2 separate regions of the Homo sapiens genome follow, and region 2 is linked to region 1. Evidence: fine-mapped expression QTL. A gene starts in region 1. The other region holds a variant in brackets. All regions are shown on one strand. Distances are between the middles of the regions.

What was found. PIP is the estimated chance that this variant, and not a neighbour inherited with it, causes the effect.
Region 2: its variant is fine-mapped to the expression of MTSS2 in whole blood (TOPMed, PIP above 0.99). The same link has a PIP of 0.9 or more in T cells.

The regions. Positions count from the first base shown.
Region 1 is chr16:70,683,971-70,688,386 of GRCh38, forward strand. It overlaps MTSS2 (MTSS I-BAR domain containing 2), which reads right to left and starts at 2,083. Exons shown (of 15, transcript NM_138383.3): 1 at 1,753-2,083. The coding sequence starts at 1,821. VAC14 (VAC14 component of PIKFYVE complex) reads right to left here. Exons shown (of 19, transcript NM_018052.5): 19 at 3,469-4,120. The coding sequence ends at 3,958. RefSeq lists an enhancer at 3,611-4,117.
Region 2 is chr16:70,744,789-70,748,788 of GRCh38, forward strand. All of the region lies in intron 12 of VAC14 (VAC14 component of PIKFYVE complex), which reads right to left. Among named protein-coding and RNA genes, the nearest start is that of VAC14-AS1, 8.3 kb to the right of the region's middle. RefSeq lists enhancers at 1,279-1,779, 1,780-2,280, 2,525-3,159. The variant A/G (reference allele first, on the strand shown) is at 2,474.

The DNA of each region.
Region 1 (4,416 bases):
TTGCCTCCACATGTCAGCAAATCATGCCCGATGTCTGGCTTGAACCTCTTGCTATGATCTGGGCCCACTTCCTTCTGTCTCATCCCAAAGTTCCTTGCAAATTGGCTGGAGAGGGAGAGAGACTGTCCTAGTCCACTTCCACGAGCAAAATCTGCTGCTCTCTGCAGTGGTTGCTATGAGGCTGCCAGTGGTGGTGGGTGGTGGGGTGCGGGAAGGCCCATCCGGAGCCAGCTCTGGGATCGGCCAGGGGAGGGTGGTCTGTGTTGCCCAGTCCCTTAACAGGATCCTGGGGCCAGGGCTGTGATGTCCACAGGACAGGTGGGGACTGCTGGGGGCCAGCGGAGGGGCCCAGATGTACAGTTGCAAGAGATGGGGGTCCCAGGGGGAGTGCACCATGAGGGGCAGGGGGTGGGGGGCATCTACAAGCCGCTAACTGGGTAGTCCCAGGCCAGGCTGGCTTCAGGCCTCTTCCGGGGGCAGAGATCTGGCAGCTGTCCCTGGGGCTGTTGTCCTGGCAGCACCGGGAGCCTCGAACTCCAACCTGCCAGCAACCCCCACCCCTCACGGGGCCTGTCCTAGCAGCACTGTACTGGGTGGTGTCACCCCCATCCCTGGCCTGGTGGGATTCTGTGTTGTGCACTTGGAGAATCTGCGCTGGGCTGTGGGGGTGGGGGCCCTTGGGAGATCCTGTGGGGTGCCTCGTTCTTTCCCCTTCTCCCAGCCCCCAAATCCTGCCCCTTCATCCTAGGCTAAGGAAAGGGGGCACGGCAGGAGGGCAGGAATACTGGTTCCTGGCCCCCACCCTATCACTGGAGCTGGGCCCTCTCTGCCTAGTCAGCGTAGGGCAGCCCTGCCAAACCCTGGCCTCATTTGGGGAGAGGAACCCACTAATTTTCCCAGGAGGAAAAATGGGGGCTGAGGTCAGGGGAAGGGTCCAATAGTCTCCTTAGTGACCTTGAGCCATTTCCAGGCCTCAGTTTCCCCACCTGGTGGGGTGAGGAATGAATGGGTGGTTGGATCCAGCCTGACCTTAAGCAATCCTGGGAGACAAGGAGGGCTCGGAGCTGAGAGCCCAGGGTGGTAATGGGGTAGGAAAAGCGCTTCCTTGGGGTTGCTCCACCGACCCCAACCTTCATCCCGCCTCCTCCCAAGGTGATGATCAAGGCCTATCCTTGGGATGCAGGGACATTCAGCCTGGAGACCTTGGAGTCCTGGAGCTTCCTGGGGCTGTGGGGGTGGGGCGGGGCTGGGGGACGCAGTCTCACGGTCGGGTGCAGAGGCCTAGGTCGGCGGGGAAGGAGTTAACGGTTCTCCGCTTTATTATTTTTTCCTGCTTTGGCGGTGACAGCATTGTCTGGGCTCCGGGGCCGTGGGGGAACATGGTGGTGGAAGGGGGCGGAGGCCGGTAAGACCCCGGACTCGTTAAAGGGCCCTAGAGTCGGTCCTGGATCCAAACCCCATTCATGGTTTGGCGGTCTGGGGCGCAGGGAGCCTGCGTGTGCACAGGCTCGGGTCAGGACCCCACGGGGCCACCGCGGGCACCGCACGGACACCCCGACACACGAGCACCCACACCCCCAGACGGGCACCCGGAGACACGGGCGCCCAGCAGACGCAGGCAGGACGCGCTCAGACAAGGACACACAGACACCGCGGCGCGCGGCCACACGAGGCTCGGCCACCCGCCGCCACGCGTCCCCGGGGGGTCCCGCACCCGTCGCCGCGCGCCCGGCCCCGCCGCGCCCCGGTTACCTTCATGTCGTTGACTATGGCCTGGAAGAGCCCGCCCAGGGCGCCGCACTCCTTCTCCGCCGTCTCCATGCTCTGGCTGGGCCGGGCCGCGGCGGCGGCTAGGCGCACGGAGCGCGGGGAGCAGCGCAAGGGAGGGGGCCAGGCCGCGCGGGCGCTCGCTCCGAGGCCGGGCCGGGCCTCCCGCCTCCAGGCTGCGCTCAGCGGCCGGCCGCGCCGCGCTCCGGGGTCGCGGGCCTCCGGCGGGCGGCGCGGGCCATGTCGCAGCGGGGCTGGCGGGCGGCGCGGGGGGCGCGGCGCGGGCAGCTCGCGGCGCAGCCTCGGCGCGGGGACTGACGGCGGCGGTAATCCGAGCCGCCGAGGATCGGGCGTCACGTGGGCGCGGCGGAGGGGGGACCGCGAGGAGGGAGGGAAGGAGGGCGGGCCGCGCGGGAGGGGGCTGTGGGAACGGCCGCGCGGGCGCAGGCCCATTCACGGCCAGAAACCAGGGCTTTGAAATCCGAGCCCGGGCGCTGCCAGACTGGTCCGGCGAGCGGGGCCGACGGGCGCGGGCGCCACCGAGGGTCGGGGGGCGGCGCTGGGCGGGGCCCGCCCTGCCCACGCAGGAGCGGGACTGGCGGTTGGGCCTCGGCCCCCGGGCAGGGGCTCCACGATATCTTCTGGCCTTTGGTCTGGGGCGGGGGGCTTCTCGCGCTTCTAAAGACAGGCAGTGGGTACAGTGGCGGGATGGGGTCGGTGCATGGGCTGGATGGGTGGCATACACCGCACACAGCAGGGCGCGGGGTATCGTGGAGCCGCCCGCCTTGGGACGTTTCATCGCAGGCACAGACCTTCCTCAAGTTCGGACCCTTCCAAGTTCCTTGGCTCCTTCTCCAAGTGGTGCCGATGCCACCCGGATGGGGTGCCCAAGGCTGGGCATTTGGGGGGCAGTGGTAGTCTCCTGGGCCTTGAACAACCTCCTTCTTCGCGGGTGGGGGCTAATGTCGGACCTGCAGAGCAGAGCTGGAGTGTCCTTGGTCTCTGCTGCCTGAGTCCACGGTGGGTGCGATGCACACACGTGCATGGGGTAGCAATGTCAATCGCAGCCTGTCCTGGAGACTCCAGGCAGGGAAACCCACCCTGGGGGGCAGCACGATGGGGGAGCGCACTCTGGGGAAGAGCAGGCACAAGCTCCTTCTCGCCTACTCCATGGGCCGGAGGGAGCCAATTACAAGCTCATTAGGAGACCAAGCCCAGGGTTCCCAAAGCCTGGGGACAGGTGGTACCACTCCCGGTGAGGAAGGGCTTTCAGCTGCAGCAGTGGTTGGGGCACCTGCCCCTCCCTGGACTGCTCTGGGCTTTTCCTCCCCTTGCCCCGAGATCTGCAAAGTGTTCTGCAGTGTGCATTGCCCTTTCATCCAGGAACTCCTGGGGCTCAGCTCCCATGTCCCCAGTGGGGAACTCCCATTGCCCCAGGGAGTCAGGATGAGAAAGGCAGATTGGGGAAGGCAGGGTTCAGGATTCCAGGGCAGGCAGTGCATGGTGCTCTCCAGGAGGGTGCAGGTTCCAGAGGTGGGGACCTAGGCTCTAGGCCCATGGCTCCACTCAGGTGAGTGCAGGGACCAGGCCCTGGGGCAGCCAGTACTCCTTGGGGCCATCATGAAACCCGATCTCCAGGACAGAGGGTGAGGCCCCCGGACAGCTGCACGTGTCAGCTGGGAAGGAGCAGGCCGGCTCGGGTTGAGGGTTTTCTGTTATTTCTTTATTGGGGTGGGGGTGGGGTGCATCATTCAGATCTTTGTGCTGGTGCCTACGTGCATACAAGTACACACACACACACACACACACAGGCATGTGTTCACGTATGTATACATATACACACAAGGCCAGAGCTCTAGTGTGCTGGAGGAGGGGCAAGCTCTTTTTCCAAGAGGGTATTAGAAAGAGGTTGATTCCAGAGGATGAGTGGTCTCTGAGGCTATAGCCCCCCACTGGGTGGGCAGCCAGCTCTGTGAGAATGCCAGGGTGCAGCTGACAGCGCTGGAGGCCTGGGGACTGGACTCTGAGAGGAGCTTGGGCAGACACAGCAGCCTCCGGCCCCAACACTGCCCTGGGTTGGCAGGCCCAGCCCTGGTCCTGACAGGCAGGTCCTTGAGCTCCTCGGGAGGGCGTGACGACCCTTAGTGTTTCATGGGACCACTCGGTGGGCCCTCCTCCGTGCCAGGCCTGTCAGAGGACAACCCTCCGGTCCAGGTGGTCCCCACGCCCGCTCCGCTGGTGCCGCACTTCCAGGTGCTTGTTCTGGACCTTCTCAAAGTGCTGCAGCAGCTCTGCGTAGTCGATGCTAGGGGAGTCAGCTTTCTGGGACTTGGGGGCTGCCTTTAGACTGTCTCTGGGAAGAGGGAGCAGAAATGCTCAGTGTCAGGGATCAGCTCACAGGGGGGTTACTGCTGGAGGGCAGTGGGGTCAGAGGCAGAGCCACAGGCTGGTGGGCTCGGCCTGTGGGCGTCTGTCTCAGGCCTGGCAACTCTTCCGTCATGGCGGGCCCCAGAGCTGGGAAGCCCCTGAGCATCCCCCTCTTCCGCAGTTGGTGGGAACAGCTAACACTGCTGCTTGGCTATTGCCCTCGGCCTGTGGGCTGGCGATGGCGCCCAGAGCAGGCATCGCATTGGGAAGCATTTCCTGTTT
Region 2 (4,000 bases), 61 kb after region 1:
GTGAATGGGGCCTCTGGAGGAAGGAAACTGGAATCTGAGGTTCGGAGAGTCAGCTTCCCCACGATCCCTCTCTCGGGTCCCTTGAACAGGGCTCTGAGGGTCCCCAGGAGTCCCAGGACTCAGGAAGCAGGGCGTTATCTGCACAGTGTGCACTTCAAGGCCCGCAGGCTGCGCAAGGCTCCCAAAGTGCCCTCCAGACCATGTTCTATTGTGTGCGGTAGCCACGGCCCCACCCACCATTGGGCCACAGAACAGCTGCTTCTGCAGAGGTGACACCAGGCCACTGCAGACCCTAAAGCGTCCTCCACATTTGGCGTGCTACTCTGGTCTCCAAGGTAAAGGACTTCCTAATGTCCAGACATGTCAGGTGGTCCTCGGTGGCTCTAAAGTGTCCCTGCACAGATGTGGGTGGGGTGAGGCCCCAGCCTGACCACCTGCCTGCTGAGTTCTTCCGAGACAGAGGCAGAGTGGGGCGTGGGACCAGTGCTGAGTGTGAGCGCAGGTCAGCACTGTGTCACAATGTCCCCAGGGCTGCTCTACAGCCCCCGTATCCTTAGAAGCTGCCTCTCCTCGCACAGCACCCATCTTTGCCTGGCACCAAGAGCTGGCAGGGCGGCAAAGTCCAGCCTACCACTCTGCTGCAATGGGCAATAGGGAGAGGGGCCACGGACCTGCCCTGTTGGGAGGGGCTTCAGTGTGTGTGTGTGTGTGTGTGTGTGTGTGTGTGTGTGCGCGTGTGCGCGCGTGTGCCTGTGTGCATGCACCTGCCCCAGGGGCTGCTGAGGCTTCCTGGCCACCTTCTGCTGGCTGTGTTTATCCTGCAGGGAACTCCTCACACTGCAGGTGGTCGCCTGCTCTTTCTGCCCCTCACTCCTCTCTTGCTCTGGGCTAGGGACTATGCCTGTCCCCCCAAAAGGTGTATCTCCAGGACTGTCCCTGCGCCCAGCAGATGCCCAACAAACATCAGTTGACTGGGTGGTTGCCTGTGCCTCTTCCTGGGCTACTCTGAGCCCAGGCCAAGAATAACGACGGCAACCGGGGCTTCAGCCCTGGACCAGGGAAAGTGGGACAGAGCCTGATGGGCAGGGCCATGTGGGCCAGGACCGGCCAGGTGGCTGGAATATGGGAATACAAGATAAGGTTAGCACTGTAGGGCTCCTACTGAGGGATTAAAATGTTGTGGAATTAGATGGGGGTAATGGTTGCAAAAAGCTTGTGAGTATATTAAAAGCCAGTGAATTCTATGCTTCAAAAGGGCAAATTTTATCTAGAAAACAAACAAAAAAGATAAGGCCTACCCCCTCAAAAGCCATTCCTGTCAATGCAAACACAGTGCCAGTGCCTCCCCCACACTGCCCAATTGTCACTTCTCCTCCTGGTTCCTCTAGGCCAGCCCTGGCCGGGAACCCCTTTGCTTGCTCACCCATTCCCGCCCCCTCAGTCTTCAAACAGTGTCACGTGTTGGCACGCAATCTCCCAGCCTCATCCAGGCAGGAGCTGGCACTCGCTCACACAGACTCACTCTCACAGACTCCCCTCCTACTGTCCAATTCTGTCCTTCCCTTCATCCCTCTCCCACTCATGGAGACTGGGATGTCTGTGGGCCCCTGGGACCCTGCTCTGTGCCAGCGGCTGCGTTGGGTTCTGGGGCTGTAAAGGTGAGTCACAGCCACCCCTGCCCGTGGCCTGGCACACAGAGTGGAGAGCTGATGAATCCACGTGGCTGAGACACATGGCTGCCACACAGCCCAGTCATATGGCAGGAGCAAGGGGTGCCCCTCCACCCAGGCCAGGAGCCGGGGAGCCCTGGGTGGGTCTCAGCCTAGAAGTAGGGAGGGCCGAGGCCTCTGCTTCCACTGAGGACAGAGCCTCCAGGGATTCTTTGCTTCAGCCACAGAAGAAAGACACAGGGCGGAGGGCAGGATGGGGAAGTGGCACAGCAATGAATGACGCCGCGGTCCTGCCCGATTCAGCCCCTGCACACCTGCCACGGCAGGATGTACAAAGGCCATGCACACCAATGCTTGCTGGACTGTCCAAGCACGGCCAGGGAGGGGACTTGAGACCAGGAAATGGAGGTGGGGGGAGGATGGGGGAATGACTCATCCAAAATTAAACAGTGAGGCAAGAGTCAAGCCAACAGCTCCTCAAACAGTTACCCAGAGAGCTGCCATAGGTATACTCCCACTCCTAGGCAGTTACCAAGAGAACTGCAAACGTCTGTGCACATCAAACTTATATATAAATGCTCACAGCGGCATTTTTCCTAATAGCTACAAAATGGAAATAACCCAAAGGCCCTGCAGTGGAGACAAGGAGAAATGGAACGTGGCACATCCACACCAGGGAATATTATTTGGTAATAAAAAGAAATGAAGTACCTGCTACACGTGGATGAACCTTGAAAACACCTGCCGAGAAGCCAGCCACAAAGTCCACATCCTGTATGATGACTCCATTAACAGGCAAATCC[A/G]CAGAGACAGAGGGTGGATTTGTGGTCGCCAGGGGCGTGGGGAGGGAGGCATGGGGAGTGACTCCTAACGGGTGCAGGGTACATACAGGGCTTCTTTCTGGGGTCATGAAAATGTTCTGGAATTAGTACTGATGGTTGTATAATCTTGCGAAAAATACTAAAAGTTACTCTATGGTATACTTTTAAAGTATACAATAGAGTCGTTTTTATGAATTTTATGGTATGTGAATTGTACAAAAAAAGGGCGGGGGGGGCAAAACCCTAAATCAGCAACCTAATTCCTAACCCATTTGCTCTTGCTCTGCCCACAGCCCGAGGTGGTGGGGTCTCACCCACTCCCTGGTGTCTCTCGCCTGATCCAGGGGAGAGGAGGAGCACGGTGAGGAGATCTGTGTCTCTTTACATCACTTTGCCCCCTCGCCCCCATGCTGCCCATCCCACCCAGGTCTGTCTGCACAGGGGGACAGAGGCACACACCTCTGGGCGGCCAACACTGGTGGCCACGTGCAGCAGGGGAGGAAAGTGAGGAGAAAGTGTGATCCAGCGGGGCGGCTGGGGCCAGGCCAGCACTCGGCAAGATCCCTGTGCCATGGGGACAAACTGATTCATGCTGGGTATCCGGCAGGTACCTACTTCCCTGTCAGAACAGAGGCCTGGAAAAAGCCACCGAGAGGCCTGGCCTGTGCAAGGTTGTCTCCACCCTTCGAGTGGCTCCAGGGCCAGAGGAGCAGGCTGTCCTCGCTCCCGGCCACAATGAATGCCCTCACTTGTCACCAGTCTCACCTCACAGGATACACACAAGGGAACTGAGACTTGGACAGTCACCTGCTCAAGGTAACAGCGAGTCCACCTCAAACCCAGCTCTGGTCCCCAAACCTGAGCCTGCTGATAACACTACACAGGGTGCTGTGGTCAGACAGTCCTGACATCCAATCCTGACCCTGGACCAGTTAACTTCAACCACACAATGCTCCCTCTCCAGACAGCTGCTGAGCAGCTGCTGTGGGCTAGTCCTGTGCTGGGTATAAGAGACACAAGGCCAGACAGGTCAGGCTCTGCCTTCAGTGAGGTCATGGACTCCCGGAGGAGTCAGGTGGTGAGCATTTACTGATAATACAGGGCGGGTGCCAGGGACCCAGTGATGATGCCTGGGGGGGAGCCAGGAGGCTCTGGAAGTAGTTGAGCATGAGTTGGCCAAGGGAGTAAGAAGGGAGAGAATGGCATTCAAAGTATTCTCTTACCTAGCATAAGCCATTCATGGACGCAGAACCACGTGGCACATTCCAGGAAACTAGGCTTTGGGGCCAGCTCCAGAGTGGGGAATGGGGCCAGAGGTGAGGGTATGGCCAGAAATCAGGCCAAAGTGGTAGGCAGGGCCAGATCTTCAAGAGCTCATGACACAAGGCCAGGTGCGGTGGCTCACGCCTGTAATCCCAGCACTTTGGGAGACCGAGGCAGGCAGATCACCTGACGTCAGGAATTCAAGACCAGCCTGGCCAACATGGTGAAACCCCCTCTCTCCTAAAA